Regions from separate parts of the Homo sapiens genome. Here region 2 is linked to region 1. Evidence: fine-mapped expression QTL. A gene starts in region 1. The other region holds a variant in brackets. All regions are shown on one strand. Distances are between the middles of the regions. Region 1 holds the start of CMTM7 (CKLF like MARVEL transmembrane domain containing 7). Region 2 has its middle 39 kb from the start of CMTM6.

Region 1 (15,709 bases):
CGCCATACACATCTAAAGCAGAACATAAAGGGATGGGCCCTTCTGGATGATGCTGGGCTATTCTGTGCTAACAGGTCTATTCACAGCTAGACCAGAGGCTGACATCCCCCACAGCTGAATTCCACTTGGCACCTAACCTGTGAATTCTCAAAGTGAAGCCTGGAATTGCCCAGGCCTCTTAGAGGGTCTCCAGGACCCGCTCTCCTGCCAAGAAACCTTAGTGTACTCCCCCCAGCACCCAGTCTGGGAAGGCTCCTTCAATCTTATTTCAGACAAAACATCCTTTTAGGATATAAAGTATTTTGCACTGTCAAAATTGCACTGTCAAAATTCCAGTTTGCATTACTATTCTGAAATGAATAAGATGTATATGTAATATAACCCTAATCCCTGTGACAACCAAAAAAAAAAAAAAACAAAAGGTTCCATAAAATTCCAAAATAACCCCTAGGGGGCGGTACAGCCCCTAGTTAAGAGTCACCTCATGAATGGTGAGTTGATATGATGCTTTGCTGATTTTTCTTAGACTAAGGACTATATATTCACCAAGATTTGGCAGACCCTGGAGTCTGGTCCCTGCATACCTCCAGTCTCATCCCCAATACTCCCACCCTGTTCTCTCCCCTCCAGCCCTAGAGATACTCCTCCCTCCACTAACAGCCAGGGTCCGTGCTCTTTCTTTTCTTTTTGGGGGGATGGGAGGACAGGGTCTTGTTCTGTCACCTAGGCTGTATGGAGTGCCGTGGCGATCACCACTCACTGCAGCCTAGACCTCCAAGAGATCCTCCCATCTCAACCTCCCGAGTAGCTGGGACTACAGGCACGTGCTACCACACCCATCTAATTTTTGTATTTTTTTGTAGAGACCGGGTTTCACCATGTTGCCCAGGATGGTCTCAAACTCCTGGGCTCAAGCCATCCGCCCGCCTCGGCCTCCCAAACTGCTGAGATTACAGGCATGAGCCACTGCGCCGGCCAACGCTCTTTCTTCTGCTTGTGATGCAATTTCCTCATGCTCACATCAGATGTCCCTTCCTCAGAAACACCCTTCCTAATCCCCAAAAGGTCACACTCCCTAGTATATGCTCTATACCACTGAGTACTTCTCCTTCATAATTTCGAACCTGTTTGTAATTACATATTCATAACCATTTTGATTAATGTTTATTTTCTCTATTTGAGTATAAAGAGGCAGGGGCTCATCTGTCTTCTTTCCACAGTTCCCTAGCACACAGTCGTGATCACCTACTAGTTAGCTGATCACAGTAGGTGATCAACAAATATTTGCCAAATAAATAAATGAACCTCCCAGAAGATATTTAGATTTCCATCATTGCCGCTTGTGAAATACATTCTGATTCTCTGTCCATGTTATGGTTATGTAAACGTCACAGTCTGTTTTTCTGCACAGGCAGAAAGAGTCTATCCTGTTAATAGCTGTATTTCACATAGCGTAAGATTAACAGCATAGCAGATGCTCAGTGGATAAGATGGCACCCATTTCTAAATGTCTGGGGTGGGAAGATTAAGATAATTACCCCAATTCTGGCTCATTTCTTGCTACATCTTTTTCCTTCCCAACCCTAACATACCACTTATCTCTAACTTAAACATATATTGAATAAAGGCACCAAAGGGGTAAATGAGCCACTCCCAACCTGAAAACTTACACTCATCTGTCAAGATGCAATTTAAATATCACCTTTGCCCTCTGATCCTCTTCCATAAGGTGGGCAACTATCAGAACGTTTACCTTCCTGAGCAGCCAATTTTGGTACTTGTTCATCCCCTCAGCTTGTCAGAGGCATCCTAACCAGAGTGACTCCATCTTGAATAAAGGCCGAGAGAAAGCCAAATCTGCTGGATTACATTCCCAGGGGGTTGGGCAGTCTTGGTCACATGATGTTTATGGTTGAGGGAATGAGTTAATAATTTTTTTTTTTTTTTGAGACAGAGTCTCACTTTGTTGCCAGGCTGGAGTGCAATGCTGCGATCTCGGCTCACCGCAACCTCTGCCTCCCGGGTTCAAGAGATTCCCCTGCCTCAGCCTCCCGAGTAGCTGGGACTACAGGCGTGTGCCACCACGCCTGGCTAATATTTTGTATTTTTAGTAGAGATGGGGTTTCACCATGTTAGCCAGGATGGTCTCGATCTCCTGACCTCGTGATCCGCCCACCTCAGCCTCCCAAAGTGCTGGGATTACAGGCGTGAGCCACCACACCCGGCCCGAGTTAATAATATTAACTAACTAAATAAAGACCCAGAACTTACGGAAATGTCCCAGTTCTTCAAGAAGAAAAAGTATTCTTAGTTTAAGAATAGGTTCTGCTTTTAAAATAATGGTACACTCATAAGTTCTTGCTAAAATCAATAATCACATAGGAAAGTAACAATATTAATAGCTTGTCACAAGCTGATCGCAAGCTTTTGTAATAAAGTACACTATTTTTAATAACCTATATAAGCAAGCATTGTATTTGCAATGGGTGCGTTCCTCCTCTTGCTTTCTGAAGAGTCTCTACTCTGTAATTGAGTGGCGTCTAGTAAACTACTTTGACTTCACTATACTCTACAACTTGCCCTGAAGTTTTTTCTGCACGAGATCCAAGAACTGTCTCTTGGGGTCTGGGACAAGACCCCTCTTCCCATGACAAGCTGAACCACAGATTACTTGAGGGCAAGAACTTTGTCACAGTCATCTGATTCTGCACAAATGGAGATGAATGTGGCAGTTATAAATGTCTGCTGAATGAACAAATAGATAGGACGTGTTGGTAGGGCCACAAGCCCCATCCTGGGGTCTCCTTAATCCCACAGCAAGGATATCTAGACCCCTTCAGACCCCAGGGCATCCCTTTCAGCTCAGACCCTTCAGGCACTCAGGGGATGCCTTTCAGCCCAGCTTTTGTGACTCCTGCAGGGGACACTCCTTCTTCTAGGAGTGGATGTGGTGGGAACACCACAGGGATTTCCTGAAGTGTAGCTGTAGCCTCCCCACACCCAGTGGCTGCATGCAGAGCACCTTGCCCCCTCACACTCATCCACAGGTCTACTTACATAATTACATACCAACCAGTTACTTATTTAAAGTATAAATCTCGGTGGTTTTTAATATATTCACAGAGTTGTGCAACATCACCATCACCAATTTTGTTGTTGTTGTTGTTGTTTTTGTGACGGAGTCTCGCTGTGTCACCCAGGTTAGAGTACAGTCACGCAATCTCAGCTCACTGCAACCTCTGCCTCCTGGATTCAAGCAATTCTCCTGCCTCAGCTTCCCCAGTAGCTGGGATTACAGGCACCTGCCACCACATCCAGCTAATTTTTGTATTTTTTAGTAGAGACAGGGCTTCACCATATTGGCCAGGCTGGTCTCGAACTCCTGACCTCAGGTGATCCACCCACCTCAGCCTCCCAAAGTGCTGGGATTACAGGCATGACCCACCGCACCTGGCACCATCACCAATTTTTTGAACATTTTCATCACCCCCTAAAGAAACCCCATACCCCTTACAGCAGTCACGTCCCATTTCCTTTCAACCCCTGCTCCCTGACCTAGGCAACCACTAATCTATTTTTGTGTCTACGCATTTGCCTATTCTGGACATTTCATATAAATGGAATCATATAATGTGGTCTTTTGTGGTTGGCTTTTTTTCACAGCTTAGTGTTTTCATGGTTATCTATATGGTTACACGCATCAGTACTTCATTCTCCCTTTTTATGACTGAATAATATTCAATTGTATGAATGTAGCACTTAGTTTTAGTTGCTGTTTATACATTCATCATTTGATGGGCAACTGTGTTGTTTTCATTTTCTGGTTATTATGAATAATGCTGTTATGAACACATATGAATGTGTAAGTCTTCATGTGGACATCTGTTTTCATTTTCTTGGGTAGAGCTGGGAGTAGAATTGCTGGGTCACATGGTAACTTTTGAGAAACTGCACAGTTTCCCAAAGTGGCTGTACCATTTTGCATTCTCATCAGCACTGTATCAGAGTTCCAATTTCTTCACATCCTCCACATCTTCATCACTTGTTGTTTTCTATTGTTGTCATCTCCGTGGGTGTGAAGTGTTATCTCACTGTGGCTTTTATATCCCTAGAACTATTAACAAGCAACAACTCTGCCAGAGTTATGAGTTTTGGAGATCAGGCCATTAGGCCTGGATCGGTTCCACCACTACTGCTAAGAGCTGTGTGACTTTAGTGTCTCTTTAACTCTTTAGCCCGTTTCCTTATCTATCAAACATGTTACTTCACTGGATTCTTAGAAACATTTAATGAGATTATACACACATGGTATATAGTATGTAATTACTAGAACAATAATAGGGCTAAAAAAAAATAGCTATTAAAAAAAAGAGTCTCATGCAGGCGCAGTGGCTCACCTGTAATCCCAGCACTTGGGGAGGCCGAGGTGGACAGATCCCTTGAATCTCTAAGTTCAAGACCAGTCTGGGCAACATAGCAAAACCCCGTCTGTATCAAAAAATACAAAATTTAGCTGGGCATCGTGGTGGGTGCCTATAGTCCCAGCTACTCGGGAGGCTGAGGTGGGACAATCGCCGAGCCCAGGAGGTTAAGGCTGCAGTAAGCCATGATAACACCACTGTCCTCCAGCCTGGGTGACAGAGCAAGACCCTCTCTGTCTCGCTCAAAAAAAAAAAAGTCATTTAGCCGAGCGCGGCAGCTCACACCTGTAATACCAGCGCTTTGGGAGGCAGAGGCGGGGGCGGATCATGAGGTCAAGAGATCAAGACCATCCTGGCCAACATGGTGAAACCCCATCTCTACTAAAAATACAAAAATTAGCTGGGTGTGGTGGCACGTGCCTGTAGTCCCAGCTACTCGTGAGGCTGAGACAGGAGATTTGATTGAACTCGGGAGGCAGAGGTTGCAGTGAGCTGAGATCGTTCCACTGCACTCCAGCCTGGTGACAGAGCAAGACTCCCTCTCAAGAAAGAAAGAAAAAAAAGAGTGCTTTAAAGTCAAAAGTCAAAACCTGTGACTGTGTCTCTACTCCAAAAAGGAAGACCAAAGAAACTGAATTATCATGGCCAGAGGATTATAAAAATTACACATGTATAAATGACATGTCAAGTACACACATTCACTCAGAAACTCATTTTCTAGTAATGGTGGACCCAGAAGAGGCCAAGACAAGGGAAGTCATTCTCCAGTGGAACAGCCTTTGCAATGATTTCTTAAGACAACGTGTTGGCAGATCTATTGATCAGATCATGATGAAAACATTTCATGAGAAGCTGAGGACAAAAGGGTCAACCTGTTCAGTATGAAACTGAGAAACTGATGGTCAAAATGAGAGACCCATAGAAAGAAAGCCCCAATGGGTGGCATTAATTTAGCTGCTTCTGCCCTTCCCCAATGTTAAAACTTGGCTAAACAAGCATTTTCCAGCAAAGAAGACAAATGAACCTCAAATGCCCAAGCAGAGTCTTAGAAAAGAGGAGAAGTGGGAAAATAGGGAGGAGTTAGATAAGAGGCCCAAGTAGATAGCCCTAACTAGGACTAATACAGCCATCCTGCAAGGGCAACTTTGCTCCCAGAGGGTCTGATCAAACAAGCCTGCAGCAGTGATGGGGAATCCTCCAGGGCAGGTGTAAGACTCCTCAGCATGGTTTTAAGAGGAGCACATAGAGAATAAGCAACCAGATAAAGAAATTATTCAAGTCTTTGTTCTCTTTTTTGGAACAACAGGCCCCACTCTTGCCACTTGCAAATTGGCCCAAGGACCACAGGCCAGAGGCTAGCTGAGGAGCTTAAGATGAGATGGAGATTTCTCATCTCCCAGTATCTTTATTCATCAAAATCATGGACCACATGAAGGCTTCTCATCTCCATTACCTTTTCTTTGTACCTTTTTTTTTTTTTTTTTTTGAGACAGGCCTCCCTCCGTCACGCAGACTAGTGCAGTGGCACAGTTCACTGACCTTCTCAGTTCAATCAATCCTCTCACCTCAGCCTCCCAAGTAACTGGGACTAGAGGCCCATGCCAACCACACAAGGTTTTAAAATTTTTTTTGTAGAGATGGGGTCTCGCTATGTTGCCGAGGTTTCATCTCCATTATGTTTGTGTACCAAACTCATAGACCAACAAGAAGACTTTTCATCCCACAATATCTTTGTCCAGCAAACTCAGGGGCCAAGATGGAGGCTTCTGATCCCATTCTCTGTCTACCAAACTCATCCCTTCCAATGCTCAGGTAGGATATGTCTCACCCCAGCCCATCTTTTAAGGATGGTGAGATGGGCTGGTCTCTTCTATTTGGCTGATCAAATCTCTTAGCCTGGGCCAAAAAATGCCCTGCTCAAACCCAACAATGCTCAGCACCAGATTTTTTTGTACGTTGCTGAAATGGCTCTTCCTAGTTTTTGGTCTATCTAGACACCGTTCTTAGGGAGGCAGGAACTCAGCGCCCCTTCTCTTTAGGTCTGGCCCAAGCAAGACATGAGGGCCACCTCATGCACACTCAGTGTCTGGAATGGCAGTGCTATAGATGCACAGACGTCCTGTGCCCAACCCCCTGGGGCCAGGCCACCTTAGCAGGCCCCAGCTTCTGGGTGTGTGACCTTGTCCAGCCCCACACTCCTTTCCCCACACCTCTTTTTGAAACTTACCGCTCCCCTCCCCACCGTTCTTGGTGCAAACATTACAATGGTGGAGACTCACAAACAGCCCAACCCAGTTTCAAAACACATCATACAAACGGAAAAGTTGTTTCAGATTACAAACTTTTAAAGAAGAAAAAAACGGGAGGGGAGAAAAGAAAAGAGTGGGGAACAAGAGAATCGGCCAGGCAACGTCTGCCCTGGTAGGAGGCCCTTGTGCTGAGTTGGTCACAATCCAAGCCCAGACACTCATCCTGCCTGGCTCCACGGGTGACTCCCATTCAACAGTCTGGCTCCCCTACATGAGTACCAGCCCCTGACAACAGGCCTTTCCCAACTGACCCCCTGCCCTCCAGAGCCCCCTGAGACCCGGGCCCTCCCTCGGAACTTGAGGGCGCAGGGGACCAGGACGGCCGTCTCAACGGTCCCAGTTCTTTTTCCCCACTATGGAACACAAGACCCTCTGACCTCCTCCTTCGAGCGAAACTGCACACAGAGCAGGGAAGCCCTGCCGCGCTGGGTTCGGAGGAAAGAGGAGGCCGTGGACGGGGAAGAGGTCGGGTTTCGCTCCCTCAGCGCCGCCGCCTGGGCGACTCTTCCACCCCCGGCTCGGGTTCGAAGCGGCGCGGCCCAGAGAAGAGGAAGAAAGACGAAAAGGAACTTTGCCCGTGGTTTCAGTCAGTAGGCGGGTCAGGCTTCGCAGGGGGGTGGCCGGAGAAACTTGCGACCCTGGCGACCTGGGTCCGCGGGAGCAAGGGCCGGGGCGGCTCTGGGGACTGAGCTCCAGCGCGGGGGCTGCGGCAGCAACTTTCCCGGAGGAAGCCTGCCGCGAACTTTAGCGACGCGGTGCCCCGCCCGCTGCGCGATGCTCCCTGGGCTCCGGCCGGGTCCAGACGCCCGGCGCGTCCGCTCCCGGACCCCTGCTTTCCCGGGACGCCCTGTAGAACCTCGGCCTCGCGCCCCGCGCTCACTTACCATTTGCGCCACTTTCAGCAGGGCCGCGTGGGTGCGGGGGTAGCTGAGGTCCAGCAGCCCCTCCAAGGGGCTCGCGCTGGGCTGGGCCGCGCCGGCCCCGGGTCCGAGCGCGCTGCCGCTGCTGCACGTGGTGCGGACGAGCCCGGCTCCGTGCGACATTGCGCGGCCCCAGCTCGCTGGCCGCCTCCCCGGGCAGCTGCCCAGGGGCCAGATACAGAGGGCGGGCCGGGGGCGGGCGGGGGCGGGCGCTGGCGAGGGCGGGGCGCCCGGGTCCCTGCCCCGCTGCTGGAGACGCGGAGCCGCCTCTGGCGGGATCCCTCCGGTGACTGGCCGGCCGGCGCCTTCCAGAAAGGTAGCGGCAGTCCCGGCCCTCGTAGATGCGCGGAAGTTAGACTGGAGCGAGAGGAAACCGGATGCCTTGGGTCGTGGCCTCTCCGAGGTGGGCAAGGCCCGGACCACAGCTGGTACTGAGCCTCCTGGGATTTTGTGTGGGTGCGGCTGCGGATGTGTGCTGAGAGCACTTTACTGAAGTTTAACTTACATAAAGTGTGATGCCCAGACCTTACGTGTTCAGCTCCACTAATTTTTATATATGTGTACACCTGTGTAACCGTCGCCCAGATCAACAAATAGAACGTGCCCATCACCCCAGAAAGTTCCGTGGTGGGCCTTCCTGACCTACCTTCCTTCCCTGGCCCCATCCTTATCCAGCCTCAGGCAACCACTACAGTGTATTCTGCTTTCTGTCACTGTAGGTTCATTTTGCCTGTTCTTGGACTTCATAAACTTGAAGTAATACAGAATATTCTCCTTCAACATAACAAATTAGAAGATCCATCCTGTTGGGAATATAAGTAGTTCATATCAGTTCCTTCCTTTTTATTGCTGAGTAGTACTCCACTGTGCAAAGATACCGTATTTTTTAAACGTTTACCCAGTTGATGGACACCAAGCTTGCTTCCTTCCTACCTGCTTGCCTGCCTCCTTCCCTCCTTCCGGCCTTTCCCCCCTCCCTCATCTCTTTTCTGGCTATAGTCACTATTATGGTACACGTTTTTTTGGTGGATACAAACTCTCATTTCTCTGGGACAAATATCTGCAAGTGAACGCACTGGTTACAAGGGGAGCATATGTTTGCTTCTGTTAGAAGCTGTCAGCCTGGGGAACATGGCCAGACCTCATTTCTACAAAAAACAAAAAATAAAAATAAATTAGCTGGGCCGGGCGCGGTGGCTCACGCCTGTAATTCCAGCACTTTGGGAGGCCGAGGCGGGCGGATCACGAGGTCAGGAGATCGAGACCATTCTGGCTAACACGGTGAAACCCCGTCTCTACTAAAAATACAAAAAATTAGCTGGGCGTGGTGGCGGGCGCCTGCAGTCACAGCTACTCGGGATGCTGAGAATGGCGTGAACCCGGGAGGCGGAGCTTGCAGTGAGCAGAGCTTGCGCCACTGCATTCGAGCCTGGGCGACAGAGCGAGACTCTGTCTCAAAATAAAAATAAAAATAAAAATAAATAAATAAATAAATTAGCTGGGTGCAGTGGCACATGCCTGTTCAGGAGGCTGAGTCTGGAGGAGCCTTGGAGCCCAGGAGGTTGAGGCTGCAGTGAGCCATGACAGTGGCATTGCACTCCAGCCTGGGCCACAGAGCAAGACCTTGTCTCAATTAAAAAAAAAAAAAAAGACAAGAAAAAGAAAAAGCTGTCAAACAGCTATCCAAGTGACATTCTATTCTGTATCCCTTTTGGGTTGTTTTAAAAATGAAGAGGCCAGGCGTGGTGGCTCACACCTATAATCCCAGCACTTTGGGAAGTCAAGGCATGAAGATCCCTGGAGGCCAGGAGTCCGAGATTGCAGTGAGCTATGATCTTGCCACCGCACTCTTGTCTGGGTGACAGAGTGAGACACTGTCTCTTAAAAAAAGAAAAAGAAAAAGAAAAGGAAAAAAACATAAAAATGAAGACAGGCCCAAACGGGACTACCAAAACGAGGTATGTTATCATGTTCCTTTTGAGCAGTGTCCCTGTGGCCATACTTACATTTATTCATTTGGAGATAACATCAAAAAATCTGGCTGGGCACGGTGGCTCATGTCTGTAATCCCAAAATCAAGCTCACAAGCCCAAGTTTGACACCAGCAAGGGCAACATGGAGAAACCCCATCTCTACAAAAAAATACAAAAATTAACTGGGCATGGTGGCACATGCCTGTAGTCCCAGCTACTCAGGAGGCTGAGGTGGGAGGATTGCTTGAGCCCGGGAGGTTGAAGCTGCAGTGAGTCATGATTACAACACTGTACTCCAGGCTGGGTGACAGAGCAAGACCCTGCCTCAAGAACAAAACAAAGCAAAGTGAAACATAAAACTATCTTTGTGAGTTTATTCCCTGCCAGTGCTGTCTTGTCATCAGAAGAGTTTTCGATGTGGCAAAGTCCTAATAATTCTTGTTGGTGGATGATACCCATGCAATATCTGTTTTGGCAAGTCTCTTAGGTGATTCTGATGCACACTCAAATTTGAGAACCACTGTCATTGCCAGAGTCCACTGCAGTTGAAACATTTGGGGATTTATTACACTATTTATTTCACCTTTATGTACATTTGACAATTTTCATGACCAAGAAAAATTGCCTTCCACGTGTGTCTTCTCTGTAGACAACAGTCACAGCTGCCTGGTACCTCCATTTGTTTCTCTGTAATTCAGGAATAATTGCATCTAGGGGCTGCTGTGACAATGTGATAGATATGCAGGTGTGCTGTGACATTTCTGGCTCTATACCCACAGGCATGAAGTTAGTACTGTGTATCATTTTTTTATGTAGATGTACATTTCACTTCTGTACTTGTCTAAGGCTTCAGGACCCACAGTGGAGATAACAGGGCATCTTTGTTGAGATGAGGGTTTCAGGGAAGCAGAAAAACCAAGTGCTGGATCATTTCTCCTTTGAGGGGCCTTTGTCCAATTCAGCAGTCTTCTAACAGTGATTTTCAGTGTATAGCCCCCCAACCAGCAGTACCTGCGAACTTGTGAGAAATGCAGATTCTAGGGGCCCACTCTGACCTGCTGAATCAGAAACTCTAGGGGTAGGGCTCAGCAGTGTGTGTCTTAACAAGTCTTCCCAACCCCACCCTCACTCCCCACCCCCCTTCACCATCATTCTGTGATTCTGATGCATACTCAAGTTTGAGAACAACTATCTCTTCCTGAGTCTGCTCAGAAACATTGCTGGGCTTTTCTGCCTGGTGTTGACTAATGCACCACCCACCTCTAATCAGAAGTAATCACTGTGCTGGGCACTCTGTGTTAATCACTTTATTATGATCACTTAAGAGCTTGAGCAAGATGCTTGCCAGTGCAAGGGCCATTGCTGGCCTGACTTACAAGAAGAGGCTTCAGAGGCTTGCCAAGTGCACTGAGATGTCTACACTAGTGTGTTGTCTGCTAGATGTGAATAGCTGCCCCTTGGGAAAGCAAGGTCTTAGGCAAAGGGCTTCATAGCCCACTTTAAAGATGTCACACTCTAAGAGGGAACCAACCAGGTAGGTGACCTCTGAATACCTGGTGAGAAATCAAGATGTCCAAGTTCTCCTTTTCTCTACACCGAGGGATTGCAGGTGGCTTATTGACAGTTTAAAGCTTCAATTCGAGTGGTACTCTGACTATAACTCTTCTTCACCAGTGTGTTTATGATGTTATATCTGATCAGATATAATGAAAAAAGTAATAAAATTAGAGTTGACTCTGTATTAGTCACAGTGCTTTTGATGAGACAAACTAAAATCAAGCAAAAAGAAGAGTTCATTCAAGCTGGGAGCAGTGGTGCATGCCTGTAGTCCCAGCTACTCAGGAGACTGGGGTAGGAAGATTTCTTGAGCCCTGAAGTTCCAGGCCAGCCTGGGCAACATAGCAAGACCCTGTCTTTAAAAACAAAACAAAACAAAAAACAAAATAGGCTTGGCACGGTGGCTCATGCCTATAATCCCAATATTTTGGAAGGCCGAGGCAGGAGGATCATTTGAGGCCAGGATTTTGTGACCAGCCTGGGCAGCATAGTGAGACCCCCATCTCTACAAAAAATGAAAAAATTGGCCAGATGTGTAGTCCAAGCAACTTAAGAAGCTGAGCGGGGGGAAGATCACTTGAGCCCAAGAGTTCAATGTTACAGTGAGCCATAATCGTGCCACTACACTCCAGCCTGGGCAACAGAGTGAGACCTTGTCTCAAAAACAAACAAACAAACTAATAAAAAGCAAAACAAAATAATTCATTGGCTTGAGTAACTGTGATATGCAGAGGTATACACCCACTTCAGGCATGGCTGGATCCAGGTGCTCCTCAGGCACAGTCAGGACCTCCATCTCCTGGCTTCACTCTGCTCTGTGTTGGCTTTTCAGGCAGGCCCTCTCATGAGCTCTGACAGCTCAGGCTTACACAATAATCCTGCCTTCGTTATTTCAGCCTGTCTTTTCCAGTGGCTCTGGTACTGTCTTAGGCTGCCATAACAAAATATCACATACTGGGTGGCTTCTCAACAAGAATTCACTTCTCACAATTCTGGAGACTAGAAGTTCAAAATCCAGTTGCCATCAGGGCTGGTTTCTGGTGAGGCCTCTCTTCATGACTTTAGATGGCCACCTTCTTGCTGTGTCCACACATGGCCTTTTCTCTGTGTACATGGAAAGAGAGAGAGAGATCTCTGGTGTCTCTTCCTAAAGGGACACCAGTCCTATTGGATTCTGGCCCCACTCTTATGACCTCATTTAACCATATTATCTCCCCAAAGAGTCCATCTCCAAATACAGTCACACTTGGGGGTAAGGCTGCCACCTATGTATTTGGGGCAGGGAGGACACACAATTCAGTCCATAATAGGCACTATCTCTCATTAGTCCAAATATGGGTCATGGTTCCATCTTTCAACGAATTACTATGGCCAGAGGAGTGGAACATTTTTGGTGGCCAGGTCAAGTTCTACCTACCCATGAAGCTGGGGGTGGGATAGGTTCAGCCCAGTAGAACCACAGGAGCTGAGTGAGGAAGGGGTGGTTCCCAAAAGGAAAACCAGGGTGCGAGTATCAGAAAGCGGAGTGAATATTAGGCAGTGTTATGCACTGAATGTTTGTGTCCCCCCATCATTTAAAAGTTGAAGACTTAACGCCCAATGTGATGACATTTGGAGATGGGGCCTGTGGGCAATAGTTAGACTTAGGTGAGATCATGAGGGTGGGGCCCTCAGGGGGGGATTGGTGTCCTTATAAAAAAGACACCAGAGAACCTGCTGGCATTCTCTCCACCATGTGAGAATACAACGAGAAGGTAGCTTTCTGCAAGCTAGGAAGAGAGCCCTCAACAGGAACCAAATCGATCAGCACCTTGATCTTGTACTCCCCAGACTCTAGAACTCTGAGAAAATAAATTTCTGGTGTTTAAGCCACCTGGCCATGGCATTTTGTTAGGAAGTCTGAGCTATGCCAGGCAGACAAAGGCATCAGGTGTCCATGAAACTCTTCCAATATCAGCCTTTAAAATCCTTTTCCAGTGAATTTCTTTATTTGTTTGTTTATTTATTTATTTATTTATTTATTTATTTATTTATTTTTGAGATGGAGTCTCACTCTGTCGCCCAAGCTGGAGTGCAGTGGCGCGATCTCGCCTCACTGCAAGCTCCGCCTCCTGGGTTCATGCCATTCTCCTGCCTCAGCCTCCTGAGTAGCTGGGACTACAGGCACCCGACACCATGCCCAGCTAATTTTTTGAATTTTTAGTAGAGACGGGGTTTCACCGTGTTAGCCAGGATGGTCTCAATCTCCTGACCTTGTGATCCGTCCGCCTCGGCCTCCCAAAGTGCTGGGATTACAGGTGTGAGCCACCGCGCCTGGCCTCCAGTGAATTTTTAAAAAGTTTATTAGGTTCCGTAAACCAGTCAAACTCTCAGGTCCTTCTGAGAATCACCAATCAGCTGCCTTATATCCATTGGAAATTTATTGCATCAGGCTGGCTCCTGAGCCAAGGGCAGCCCATCAGTGGGTTGGCCAGTAGTGTTTGGAGTGGCCTTATAAGGGAACTTTGCCTAGTAAGAGTGGGAGCTCCACTGATGATCCTCTGTCCTGCGGAGTTTGAATGTGAGGCATTGAGAGGGGTTTAGCAATTGGGACATAGAGAGAAGGTGGAAGCCAGGAGGCTGGTTGGGCCATGAGAGGAAATAAGGAGAGGCAGAGCAGAAGAGAGTGGCTGAGGCCCAGCAGAGGGAGAGCGGCATGTACTCACCACAGCGGGGCCAGCCAGGATACCTGGTCTTTAGCGCCAGGTGGGACCCTGAAACCTTTGTCTTTGTGCTGCCTGGCTGTGTGGCTGAGAGGCAGGACTCTGGAACCAAACTGCCTGGGTTTGGCCCTTAGTTCCATCACTTGCTAGATGTGCAACCTTGGGCAAGCCTCTCTCAGCCTCCATTTCCTTCTCTGTAAAGAGGAACAACAATAGAAATGACCCCTCAGGGTAACTGCGAGATCTAAATGGGATAAGACATATGGAAACGGTCTAGAGTAGCATCTGGCTCATAGTAGTAAATGTTACCTATTTTATCATTTTTCCTAAGTCCTTATGTATCGAACAATGAGGCTTCATTATCTGAGGGCTGAGGGACTCCTGTACGTTGCCATTTCCATAACCATAAGCATCAAAGACCATCTTCAAGGGTGAAATAAAAGATTTCTTGGATTTAGGTAATCCAAGGAATTTTGAGAGCTGCTGGGGAAAAGTTTTACTGAGAGAGGAAGGGAGGAGAGGAGGATTCACCTTGTTATTTGCTCACAACCCTCACTCAGCAAATGTTACGGAGAGCCTTCCACATGCCTGACTGAACACTTCCCAGAAGAGGAACTCCCTCCCCCAGGGAGTTTGTAACCATAGCAACACAGGGAAATAGAGTCAGATAACCGAGGAGGCTGTGGTCGTCATCTCTGTCATCTCTGTTGGGAGGAGTCGAGGTCTGGGTTAGACGGCTCCCTGTTTGTGTCCAGTATTTAGCAGAGTGCCTGGCCCAAAGTAGTACTCAGTTTATATTTGTGGGATTAATGCAGAGCTGTAGCATCCCTGTAAGGGATGGCCCAAAGCTGGGAGTAACCAGCTTGTCTTGAACTGGGAGGAGAAAGTTTCAAAAAAGAATATGTGCTTGGAACTAGGTCTTGAAGGGCGATTAAAAATTTATGGGGTGGGCAAAAGAGGGAATGACATATGTCAAGAAAGGAGGCATGAAACCGCACCACGGATTCCAGGAATTCCCAGTCCTTTGGCGTGGCTGGAGTGTGGGGACTTGGGGAAAAGGGCTGGGGACCTTGGCTGGAGAGATACCACAGGACTGTGGATGCCCACCTTAGGATTTGTGCTTTATGTAGACAATGAACACTGTGAGGATCAAAGGGGTTAAGATATGTCAAATGCTGAGAACTGTTGCTGACAGTAAGATGATGAGTATGATGATGATAATGAGATCTCTTTTTTATCTTTCCTTAGCCCATGCTGTCATTTGCAATCACCTGTGAAACCTATGAAAACTATACCTGCCCAGGCTCAGCCTTGGAGATTCTGATTCAGTGTGCTCAGGCGGGGCTGGACATCCATGTTTGGGAAGAGTTGCGCGGGTGATTTCGATGCGTATATGACCCTGGTTGAAAACTGCTAACCTGGCAAATGCCCGCCAGTCTCACAAAGTCCAGCCAAAATGTTACGGCCTCTGAGAAGCCTTCTGTGAGTGATGAGCAATCCCCATGGCAATATTTATTGAGCACTGACAAAGTGCCAGGACCTGTGTCAGGCACAGGAGTACATGTTCTTTGCCCAGACTGAGAAAACAGGCAATATGTATGAAAAATGCTAATGATAGAATAAAAGTGGGGTACTATGGGAGCCCATGGGGAGATACCTTACCCTGTCAGGGATGTGATGGGGAAGTCAGGGAAGGCTTCCTGGAGGAGGGGCCATCTTAGCTGCATACTGAAGGATAAAGAGGTGTTAACCAGCCTTGGGTGGGTGGAGAAGAGAGTTCCAGGTAAGTACTCGGGCATGACAGATTAGAGGGGATGAAGTTCATGC
Region 2 (11,376 bases), 72 kb before region 1:
TCTTTGCTCCACAGGAACTGTGACATCCACTCCAGGTTTTGTATCAGGTCATCTGCTGTTCTGAGCACCCTTACAGCCCCCTAGCTAGTCCAGCTCTGCCTGTCCCTTTCATTCCATCCATACCTGGCTTTCAGTCATAACATGTATTATGCAGGTTTTTTTCTGGGCTTTTTTTCTGATATGCAGTGGCCTCATTACTCAGAGTTTGCATTTTGTAAGAAATCCACCTCTTGTTCAAATGACTTGCTTGTTTGAGAAGTTTAGTGGCTGAAGACTCGTTTTGTCTCACTCATCCCTCTGGGGCCTTGCGGTCTTTCTCTTTCCAGTCCCCTGGCCAATCAGCCAAGCCGTTCACCACTCCCTGAGTCTGTATATTTTCTTTCCAGCGGATGATCAGATGCACTGCCCAGAGCTTTGCCCATTGGGAGTGTTTCCTTTCACTGCTGTCTTTCAAGGCTACCCCTGAAATAACACTATTAGTGCAGCCAGCACACATTTTCAGCTTGTATCCACGTGGCCCGCTGAGCCATCATCATGAGTGAACCAGGGAAGGAGAGTGAGCCAATATGAGGATATTACTGAGTTAGCCACCACTGTGTGATTGGTTGCTCGATTCCACAGGACTGTCCTCTGAGAAGCTGTGTAAAATGTGCCTCAGGGTGGTCTGGTCCAGGAGAGGAGGAGGAAGAATGCACGCACTGGTTCCTGTGTCCCATTGGTCAGTGTTACCTCACAGGGAGTGAATTCCCCTGCAGCACTTGCAAGTTGCACTGTGTGGCCGCTGAGCAGGTCCCATGGCAGTGTCCACAGGAAAGCGCCAAGGTGACAGTTGAAGGCCCAAATCACAGCTATCAGGTTATGCTGGCATGACATGGTCGTAGGCCTTGCAGGGCTAGCACTGCAGTGGTGGCTGGATCAAGGGATAGGTGAGGCCAAGAGGATGTAACATGTTGCATAATGGTAAGTGAATAAAGTCCTGAAAGATTACATACAGTGTGGTATCTTTTCCATTTAATTATAAACTACCAAGATTACAAGAAATGCAAGCCCGTGATCAATGGGGGATTTGGGAGGTTACCTTGGGAGGAAAAAGATGGGAGGGTGATGAACTGAAGAAGCATATTGTTACAGTTGAATGCAGGTTGTCACGACTAGCTTCAGTGCTGACTATAAACAAAAAATAGGGAAGGAGGGAGGAAGGAGGCCATGCATGGACCATGATTAGAGTGTAAGAGTGTTATGAACTCAGGATGATGATTAATCTGTGTACCTGAGGTTCAAATAAAACGTGCAGGCCGGGCGCGGTGGCTCACGCCTGTAATCCTAGCACTTTGAGAGGCCGAGGTGGGCGGATCATGAGGTCAGGAGTTTGAGACCAGCCTGGCCAACATGGTGAAACCCCGTCTCTACTAAAATACAAAAATTAGCCGGGCGTGGCGGTGGGCGCCTGTAATCCCAGCTACTGGGTAGGCTGAGGCAAGAGAATTGCTTGAACCTGGGAGTTGGAGGTTGCAGTGAGCCGAGATCGTGCCGCCACTGGACTCCAGCCTGGGTGACAGAGTTAGACTCTGTCTCAAAAAGAAAAAGAAACCCACAAAACAACAACAACAAAACCCCCCAAAAAACAGCAACAAAAAAACCGTGCAAGTGGATGCTTCTAATGTGAACAGTTCTTAGCTTTCCCAGAGGCGTGGCTCTCCCCAAGGAACGCGGCGGCGATGCTTCCCGATGGCCGCCAGGGGGCGTGCGCGGCCAGGAGCGGGCGCGTTGCGCGCGGGCTCCTGCAGCCACCTGCTTGGTGGGTTTTGTTTTCGCTACAGGAGAGCTGTGTCCAGCTGGGAGGTGTGGCAGCAGGCACAGCTGTTGGCCGGGGACCCCGGGGGCTCCCCAGGGAGGGCCTCCGCCCAGCGCGCTGCCCCTGGGTTCGCTAGGAAGCATCTGCCAGACCGGCGGGGCCCCGACTTTCCGGAGAACTGCCAAGACCCTGGGGCAAGCGCTTGAGGGCCCTCCTGGGCAGGATCGCAAACTGGGGCTGGCTGCTTCAGCTAGCCCCCAGCAGGTGTGTTTGGCCTGAAGTGTATCTTTGAAAAGATACTTGGCAGCATTTAAAAATCGGGAAATGTTTAGCGTGGAAATCCAGATGACCATTTCTCTGGGTCACTTGGGGCATCTGGCAGCACTTGGCCAGCGGCTCGCTCCACACGCATCCCTGCCCGGCTGATGAGGTTTGTCACAGTTTCGGTTAAATCAGTATTCCGCGTGACCATTATTCTGGCTGTTATCACTATTCACAACTGAGCCAAGCGGCACACTTCATGCTGTGGTAACATTTCCTTTTTTGCATAACTCTACGTGGAGTATTTTTTATTTTATTTTTATTTTATTTTTTTGAGAAGGAGTTTCGCTCTTTTTGCCCAGGCTGGAGTGCAATGGTGCAATCTCGCCTCATCACAACCTCTCCGCCTCCTGGGTTCAAGTGATTCTCCTGCCTCAGCCTCCCGAGTAGCTGGGATTACAGGCATGCACTACCACGCCCAGCTAATTTTGTATTTTTAGTAGAGACAGGGTTTCACCATGTTGGTCAGGCTGGTCTTGAGGTCTTGAACTCCCGACCTCAGGTGATCTGCCCGCTTCAGCCTCCCAAAGTGCTGAGATTACAGGCGTGAGCCACCGCACCCGGCCTATGTTGTTTTTTATGTACACAGAATATGGCAATAAAACCCAAACAGTCCACCAGTTGTCTCCCCAGCCCTCCTCCAACCTGGGCCCTTTCCATCCACCTGGTGCCCAGTGGTTCCTGGCATCTCCCTTTATGTCAGTGGTTTCTGTCAGGCCTCTAAGCCCAAGCTAAGCCATCATATCCCCTGTGACCTGCACGTACACATCCAGATGGCCAGTTCCTGCCTTAACTGATGACATTCCACCACAAAAGAAGTGAAAATGGCCTGTTCCTGCCTTAACTGATGATATTATCTTGAGAAATTCCTTCTCCTGGCTCATCCTGGCTCAAAAGCTCCCCTACTGAGCACCTTGTGACCCCCACTCCTGCCCGCCAGAGAACCCCCCTTTGACTGTAATTTTCCTTTACCTACCCAAATCTTATAAAACGGCCCCACCCCATCTTCCTTCGCTGACTCCCTTTTCGGACTCAGCCCGCCTGCACCCAGGTGATTAAAAGCTTTATTGCTCACACAAAGCCTGTTTGGTGGTCTCTTCACACGGACGCACATGAAATTTGGTGCTGTGACTCGGATCGGGGGACCTCCCTTGGGAGATCAATCCCCTGTCCTCCTGCTCTTTGCTCCGTGAAAAAGATCCACCTATGACCTCAGGTCCTCAGACCCACCAGCCCAAGGAACATCTCACCAATTTTAAATCAGGTAAGCAGCCTCTTTTTACTCTCTTCTCCAACCTCCCTCACTATTCCTCAACCTTTCTCCTCTCAATCTTGATGCCACACTTCAATCTCTGCCTTCTCTTAATTTCAATTCTTTTCATTTTCTGGTAGAGACAAAGGAGACACGTTTTATCTATGGACCTAAAACTCTGGCGCCGGTCATGGACTGGGAAGGCAGCCTTCCCTTGGTGTTTAATCATTGCAGGGACGCCTGATTATTCACCCACGTTTCAGAGGTGTCAGACCACGCAGGGACGCCTGCCTTGGTCCTTCACCCTTTGAGGCAAGTCCCACTTTCCTGGAGGAGGGACAAGAACCCCAACCTCTTATCTCTGTGCCCCATCCCTTTTTTCCGTGCCCTGACCCCTTTTCCACTTTTCTGGAGGGTAAGAATCCCCCACCCCTTCTCCGTGTCTCTACTCTCCTTTCTCTGGGCTTGCCTCCTTCACTATGGGCAAGCTTCCACCTTCCATTCCTCCTTCTTCTCCCTTAGCCCGTGTTCTTAAGAACTTAAAACCTCTTCAACTCACTCCTGACCTAAAACCTAAATGCCTTATTTTCTTCTGCAATGCCGCTTGACCCCAATACAAACTCGACAGTAGTTCCAAATAGCCGGAAAACGGCACTTTCAATTTTTCCATCCTACAAGATCTAAATAATTCTTGTCGTAAAATAGGCAAATGGTCTGAGGTGCCTGATGTCCAGGCATTCTTTTACACATCGGTCCCTCCCTAGTCTCTGTTCCCAATGTGACTCGTCCCAAATCTTCCTTCTTTCCCTCCCACCTGTCCCCAGTCCCAACCCCAAGCGTCGCTGAGTCTGTCTAATCTTCCTTTTCTACAGACCCATCTGACCTCTCCCCTCACCAGGCCAAGCGAGGTCTCAATTCTTCCTCAGCCTCCGCTCCTCCACCCTATAATCCTTTTATCCCCTCCCCTCCTCACACCCAGTCCAGCTTATAGTTTCGTTCCGTGACTAGCCCTCCCCAACCTGCCCAGCAATTTACTCTTAGAAAAGTGGCTGGAGCTAAAGGCATAGTCAAGGTTAATGCTCCTTTTTCTTTATCCCAAATCAGAGAGCGTTTAGGCTCTTCTTCATCAAATATAAAAACCCAGCCCAGTTCATGGCTCGTTCGGCAGCAACCCTGAGATGCTTTATAGCCCTAGATCCTAAAAGGTCAAAAGGCCGTCTTATTCTCAATATACATTGTATTACCCAATCTGCTCCCAACATTAAATAAAGCTCCAAAAATTAAATTCCGGCCCTCAAACCCCACAACAGGACTTACTTAACCTTGCCTTCAAGGTGTACAATAATAGAGTAGAGGCAGCCAAGTAGCAACATATTTCCGAGTTGCAATTCCTTGCCTCCACTGTGAGACAAACTCCAGCCACATCTCCAGCACACAAGAACTTCCAAACGCCTGAACCGCAGTGGCTAGGTGTACATCCAGAACTGCCTCCCCCAGGAGCTTGCTACAAGTGCCAGAAATCTGGCCACCAGGCCAAGGAATGCCCGCAGCCCAGGATTCCTCCTAAGCCGTGTCCCATCTGTGCAGGACCCCACTGGAAATCGGACTGTTCAACTCACCTGGCAGCCACTCCCAGAGCCCCTGGAACTCTGGCTGAAGGCTCTCTGACTCCTTCCCAGATCTTCTCGGCTTAGCAGCTGAAGACTGACACCGCCTGATTGCCTCAGAAGCTTACAGGACCATCACAGACGCTCTAAGTAACTCTCACAGTGGAGAGTAAGTCCGTCCCCTTCTTAATACGGAGGCTACCCACTCCACATTACCTTCTTTTCAAGGGCCTGTTTCTCTTGCCTCCATAACTGTTGTAGGTATTGACAGTCAAGCTTCTAAACCTCTTAAAACTCCTCAAATCTGGTGCCAACTTAGACAATACTCTTTTAAGCACTCCTTTTTAGTTATCCCCACCTGCCCAGTTCCCTTATTAGGCCGAGACACTTTAACTAAACTATCTGCTTCCCTGACTATTCCTGGACTAAGGCTACATCTCATTGCTGCCCTTCTTCCCAATCCAAAGCCTCCTTTGCGTCCTCCTCTTGTATCCCCCCACCTTAACCCACAAGTATAATATACCTCTACTCCCTCCTTGGTGACCGATCATGGACCCCTTACCATCTCATTAAAACCTAATCACCCTTACCCCGCTCAATGCCAATATCCCATCCCACAGCATGCTTTAAAAAGATTAAAGCCTGTTATCACTCGCCTGCTACAGCATGGCCTTTTAAAGCCTATAAACTCTACTTACAATTCCCCCATTTCACCTGTCCTCGAACCAGACAAGCCTTACAGGTTAGTTCAGGATCTGAGCCTTATCAACCAAATTGTTTTGCCTACCCATCCTGTGGTGCCAAACCCATATACTCTCCTATCCTCAATATCTCCCTCTACTACCCATTATTCTGTTCTGGATCTCAAACACGCTTTCTTTACTATTCCTTTGCACCCTTCATCCCAGCCTCTCTTCGCTTTCACTTGGACTGACCCTGACACTCATTAGGCTCAGCAAATTACCTGGGCTGTACTGCCGCAAGGCTTCACAGACAGGTCCCATTACTTCAGTCAAGCCCAAATTTCATCCCCATCTGTTACCTATCTGGGCATAATTCTCATAAAAACACACGTGCTCTCCCTGCTGATCGTATCTGACTAATCTCCCAAACCTCAATCCCTTACAAAACAACAACTCCTTTCCTTCCTAGGCATGCTTAGTGCGGTCAGAATTCTTACACAAGGACCAGGACCGCACCCTGTAGCCTTTTTATCCAAACAACTTGACCTTACTGTTTTAGCCTAGCCCTCAAGTCTGCGTATGGCGGCTACCACTGCCCTAATACTTTTAGAGGCCCTTAAAATCACAAACTATGCTCAACTCACTCTCTACAGTTCTCATAACTTCCAAAATCTATTTTCTTCCTCACACCTGACACATATACTGTCTGCTTCCCGGCTCCTTCAGCTGTACTCACTCTTTGTTGAGTCTCCCACATTATTCCGGATACCACACCTGACCCTCATGACTGCCTCTCTCTGATCCACCTGACGTTCACCCCATTTCCCCACATTTCTTTCTTTCATGTTCCTCACCCTGAACACACTTAGCTTATTGATGGCAGTTCCACCAAGCCTAATCTCCACTCACCAGCAAAGGCAGGCTATGCTATAGTATCTTCCACATCTATCATTGAGGCTACCGCTCTTTCCCCCTCCACTACCTCTCAGCAAGCCGAACTCATTGCCTTAAGTCAAGCCCTCACTCCTGCAAAAGGACTAAATGTCAATATTTATACTGACTCTAAATATGCCTTCCATATCCTGCACCTCCATGCAAGAGGTTTCCTCACTACACAAATGTCCTCTATCATTAATGCCTCTTTAATAA[A/T]AATGCTTCTCAAAGCTGCTTTACTTCCAAAGGAAGCTAGAGTCATTCACTGCAAAGGCCATCAAAGGGCATCAGATCCCATCGCTCAGGACAATGCTTATGCTGATAAGATAGCTAAAAAAGCAGCTAGCATTCCAACTTATATCCCTCACTTTCACTTTTTCTCCTTCCCCTCAGTCACTCCCACCTACTCCCCTGCTGAAACTTCCACCTATCAATCTCTTCCCACACAAGGCAAATAGTTCTTAGACCAAGGAAAATATCTCCTTCCAGCCTCACAGGCCCATTCTATTCTGTCGTCATTTCATAACCTCTTCCATGTAGGTTACAAGCCGCTAGCCCGTCTCTTAGAACCTCTCATTTCCTTTCCATCCTGGAAATCTATCCTCAAGGAGATCACTTCTCAGTGTTCCATCTGCTATTCTACTACCCCTCAGGGATTGTTCAGGCCCCCTCCCTTCCCTACACATCAAGCTCAAGGATTTGTCCCTGCCCAGGACTGGCAAGTTGACTTTACTCACATGCCCCGAGTCAGAAAACGAAAGTATCTCTTAGTCTAGGTAGACACTTTCACTGGATATGTAGAGGCCTTTCCTACAAGGTCTGAGAAGGCCACTGCGGTCATTTCTTCCTTTCTGTCAGACATAATTCCTTGGTTTAGCCTTCCCACCTCTATACAGTCCGATAGCAGACCGGCCTTTATTAGTCAAATCAGCCAAGCATTTTTTCAGGCTCTTAGTATTCAGTGAAACCTTTATCTCCCTTACAGTCCTCAGTCTTCAGGAAAGGTAAACGGACTAAAGGTCTTTTAAAAACACACCTCACCAAGCTCAGCCACCAACTTAAAAAAGACTAGACCATACTTTTACCACTTTCCCTTCTCAGAATTCAGGCTTGTCCTCGGAATGCTACAAAGTACAGCCCATTTAAGCTCCTGTTTAGACGCTCCTTTTTATTAGGCCCCAGTCTCATTCCAGACACCAGACCAACTTAGACTGTGCCCCAAAAAACTTGTCATCCCTACTATGTTCTGTCTAGTCATACTCCTATTCACCGTTCTCAACTACTCATACATGCCCTGCTCTTGTTTACACTGGCAGTTTACACTGTTTCTCCAAGCCATCACAGCTGATATCTCCTGGTGCTATCCCCAAACTGCCACTCTTAACTCTTAAAGTAAATAAATAATCTTTGCTGGCAGGACTATGCTGAATCTCTTTAGGCACTCTCTAATTAAATGTCCTAGGTCCTCCCAATTCTTAGACCTTTAATACCTGTTTTTCTCCTTCTCTTATTCTGTTTAGTTTTCCAATTCATACAAAACTGTATCCAGGCCATCACCAATAATTCTAAATGACAAATGTTTCTTCTAACAGTCCCACAATATCGCCCCTTACCACAAAATCTTCCTTCAGCTTAATCTCTCCCACTCTAGGTCCCCACACCACCCCTAATCCCGCTCGAAGCAGCCCATTATCTCTCCATACCATCCCCCAAAATTTTCGCCATCCCAACACTTTACCACTATTTCGTTTTATTTTTCTTATTAATATAAGAAGACAGGAATGTCAGGCCTCTGAGCCCAAGCTAAGCCATCATATCCCAGATGGCCAGTTCCTGCCTTAACTGATGACATTCCACCACAAAAGTGAAAATGGCCTGTTCCTGCCTTAACTGATGACATTCCACCGCAAAAGTGAAAACGGCCTGTTCCTGCCTTAACTGATGACATTATCTTGAGAAATTCCTTCTCCTGGCTCATCCTGGCTCAAAAGCTCCCCTACTGAGCACCTTGTGACCCCCACTCCTGCCCATCAGAGAACAACCCCCCTTTGACTGTAATTTTCCTTTAACTACCCAAATCTTATAAAACGGCCCCACCCCTATCTCCCTTTGCTGACTCTTTTCGGACTCAGCCCGCCTGCACTCAGGTGATTAAAAGCTTTATTGCTCACACAAAGCCTGTTTGGTGGTCTCTTCACACGGACACTCATGAAAGTTTCCACACTTTTTTTTCAGGAGAGAAATCCCCCTTTTCAATCTAAATTATGCATGAAACTCCATTATGTCAAATGGGAAATATGGTATGAATATCAATGACTAATTTACATTGATAACATTTACTTATTATAAAGTCAGTGCATAGGAACAATGGGATTAATTTGGAAAGCCCACAATTTGGATAAGTAAGGAGATAACTGCAGCTGCAGCTTCACGGTCAGATTTGTTCTGCTGCTGCATCTGGGTTGCGCAGGATGGAGGAGCCCAGGCTTGCCCAGTGAGGTGGTGGCGGGGTTTTTAGCAGCTTGCTTCACACTCTGGGTGGCCTTGCACTGACGGCGGCTGCACGAGCTGAGTTACCCTGGGCAGACGGCATGGAGGCCGAGGGGCTCCCAGTGTCCGTGTTTGCTATTGAAGGCTGGAGAGTGTTTTAAGTGTTTGCATATATTTTACTCATAAAATCGGGTATCTGTGAGTCTGAAGCACCTCTGAGAGTTCACAGGATGCAGTTCAGAAACTGCCACAAAGGAGGGAAGTGGTGGTTGCTGAGGAGGGGCCCCAAAGACCTGCTGTGTTTCCATGGCAACAGAAGTTTGCTTTTCATGCTAGTGTAGAGGCTTGCAGGTGGGTGGCCCAGAGAATGGGCCAGCTCTGGGTCTGTCTTCCCCTACCTGGGGCCTCTTCAGTGGCCTGGCTGGAAGCCAGGCTGAGCTCAGCACAGGGCAGTGGCACAGGGGGTGCCTCAGGCCGGGGTTAAGGGGGCCTCCTTCAGGAACACACTTGTTCTCCCTCTGGGTCCGTCTGCAGACATCCAGCTCTGGCCCTGCCCTGTCATCCCAGCAGCCCGCAGTGGGGTGGTCCTAGGCCACGCCCAGAAGACAGCCAGGCCTGGGCGTCTTCACCGGGCTCCATCACTAATCTCCCTTCCACTTGGCTTTCTCCTCCGGTCTCCCCGCTACACTGTCCTCAAAGATTGGGGGTTCTATTGCCACGGGCCTCCCTATTACAGAAAACCCCACAGATGCTGTAGTCTTCCAGAGCCTGGCTGAGCAACAGTTTTCTGCCACTCTTGTGGGTAATGAGAAAACCTGGCAGAGGTGTGCCCAAGGGATGGCACCCCCCCTCAGCCTTCCTCCCTACCTCCCCAAGAGCAAGGCCAGGGAACGGGCTGGTTGTGGTGGGGGATGTGAGCAGATGGCCGTCGGCCTCATCTCCCAGTGCCCCTTGCGGCCACCGGTGCCAACACCCTTTCCTGGGGCCTCAGGTTGCCAGGATGGCTCCCCTGGCTCCCTGCTCCTCCCCCATGGGTGCATCCTTCCCTCCTCTCACATCTTTGCTTGGATCCACCTGGCTGTAACTGCTCTGGGAGCAGGGGTGGTGGGTACACAGTTTGGGTTCCACAAGGCCCCTGGGTTGAACAGCTCCCAGAGAGCCTGGATTAGAGAAGACAAACATACCCTACAGCTGTGTTCTCCAGGACCCATAATGCTTAGCTGTTAGAACATGGGGTGGCCACTGTTGGGCTGTGGGTTGCCATTTTGGGTTGGTGTAATTTTTGCTCTTTCAGCTACTGAGGTGCCTAGACATAGGTCCTGAATTGACTTTTTCTTTTCTTTTTTTTCTTTTTTTTTTTTTTTAGACAGAATCTTGCTCTGTTGTCCAGGCTGGAGTGTGGTGCTGTGATCTTGGCTTACTGCAACCTCCACCTCCCAGGATCAAGGAATTCTCGTGCCTCAGCCTCCTGAGTAGCTGGGACTACAGGCGTGCGCCACCATGCCCAGTTAATTTTTGTGTTTTTAGTACAGATGGGGTTTCACCATGTTGGCCAGGCTGGTCTTGAACTCCCGACCTCAGGTGATCTGCCTGCCTCAGCCCCGCAAAGTGCTGAGATTATAGGCATGAACTGCTGAACCTGGCCCTGAATTGCTTTTTAAAAAATTATGGTGGCCAGGCGCGGTGGCTCACGCCTGTAATCCCAGCACTTTGGGAAGCCGAGGCGCGTGGATCACGAGGTCAGGAGATCGAGACCATCCTGGCTAACATGGTGAAACCCCGTCTCTACTAAAAATACAAAAAAAATTAGTTGGGCGTGGTGGCAGGTGCCTGTAGTCCCAGCTACTCAGGAGGCTGAGGCAGGAGAATGGCTTGAACCTGGGAGGCAAAGCTTGCAGTGAGCCTAGATCGCGCCACTGCACTCCAGCCTGGGTGACAGAGCAAGACTCCGTCTCAAGAAAAAAAAAAATTATGGTAAAATAAATAAAATTGACCATCTTAACTATTTTTAGATGTACAGTTCAGTAGCATTAAGTGCATTCATTCATACTGTTGCAGAACCACCATGGCCATCCATCTCCAGAATTTTTCATCTTCCCAAACTGAAACTGTACCCATTAAATAATAACTCCCATTCCCCCTTCCCCTGGCCCTGGCAACCGCCCTTCTAGATTTTGTCTCCGTGATTTTGACCACCCTAGGTACCTCCTGTAAGTGGAATCACGCAGTATCTGTCTGTCCATGTCTGGCTTATTTCACTTGGCATAATGTCCTCGGGTTTCATCTGTATCATAC

Evidence for each region.
Region 2: its variant is fine-mapped to the expression of CMTM7 in whole blood (INTERVAL, PIP above 0.99).

Annotation. Positions count from the first base shown.
Region 1 is chr3:32,383,971-32,399,679 of GRCh38, reverse strand. CMTM7 (CKLF like MARVEL transmembrane domain containing 7) reads right to left here and starts at 7,827. Exons shown (of 5, transcript NM_138410.4): 1 at 7,615-7,827. The coding sequence starts at 7,773.
Region 2 is chr3:32,458,366-32,469,741 of GRCh38, reverse strand. No RefSeq gene overlaps it. Among named protein-coding and RNA genes, the nearest start is that of CMTM6, 39 kb to the left of the region's middle. RefSeq lists silencers at 1,286-1,395, 1,986-2,055, 8,331-8,625 and enhancers at 9,017-9,727, 11,324-11,376. The variant A/T (reference allele first, on the strand shown) is at 6,808.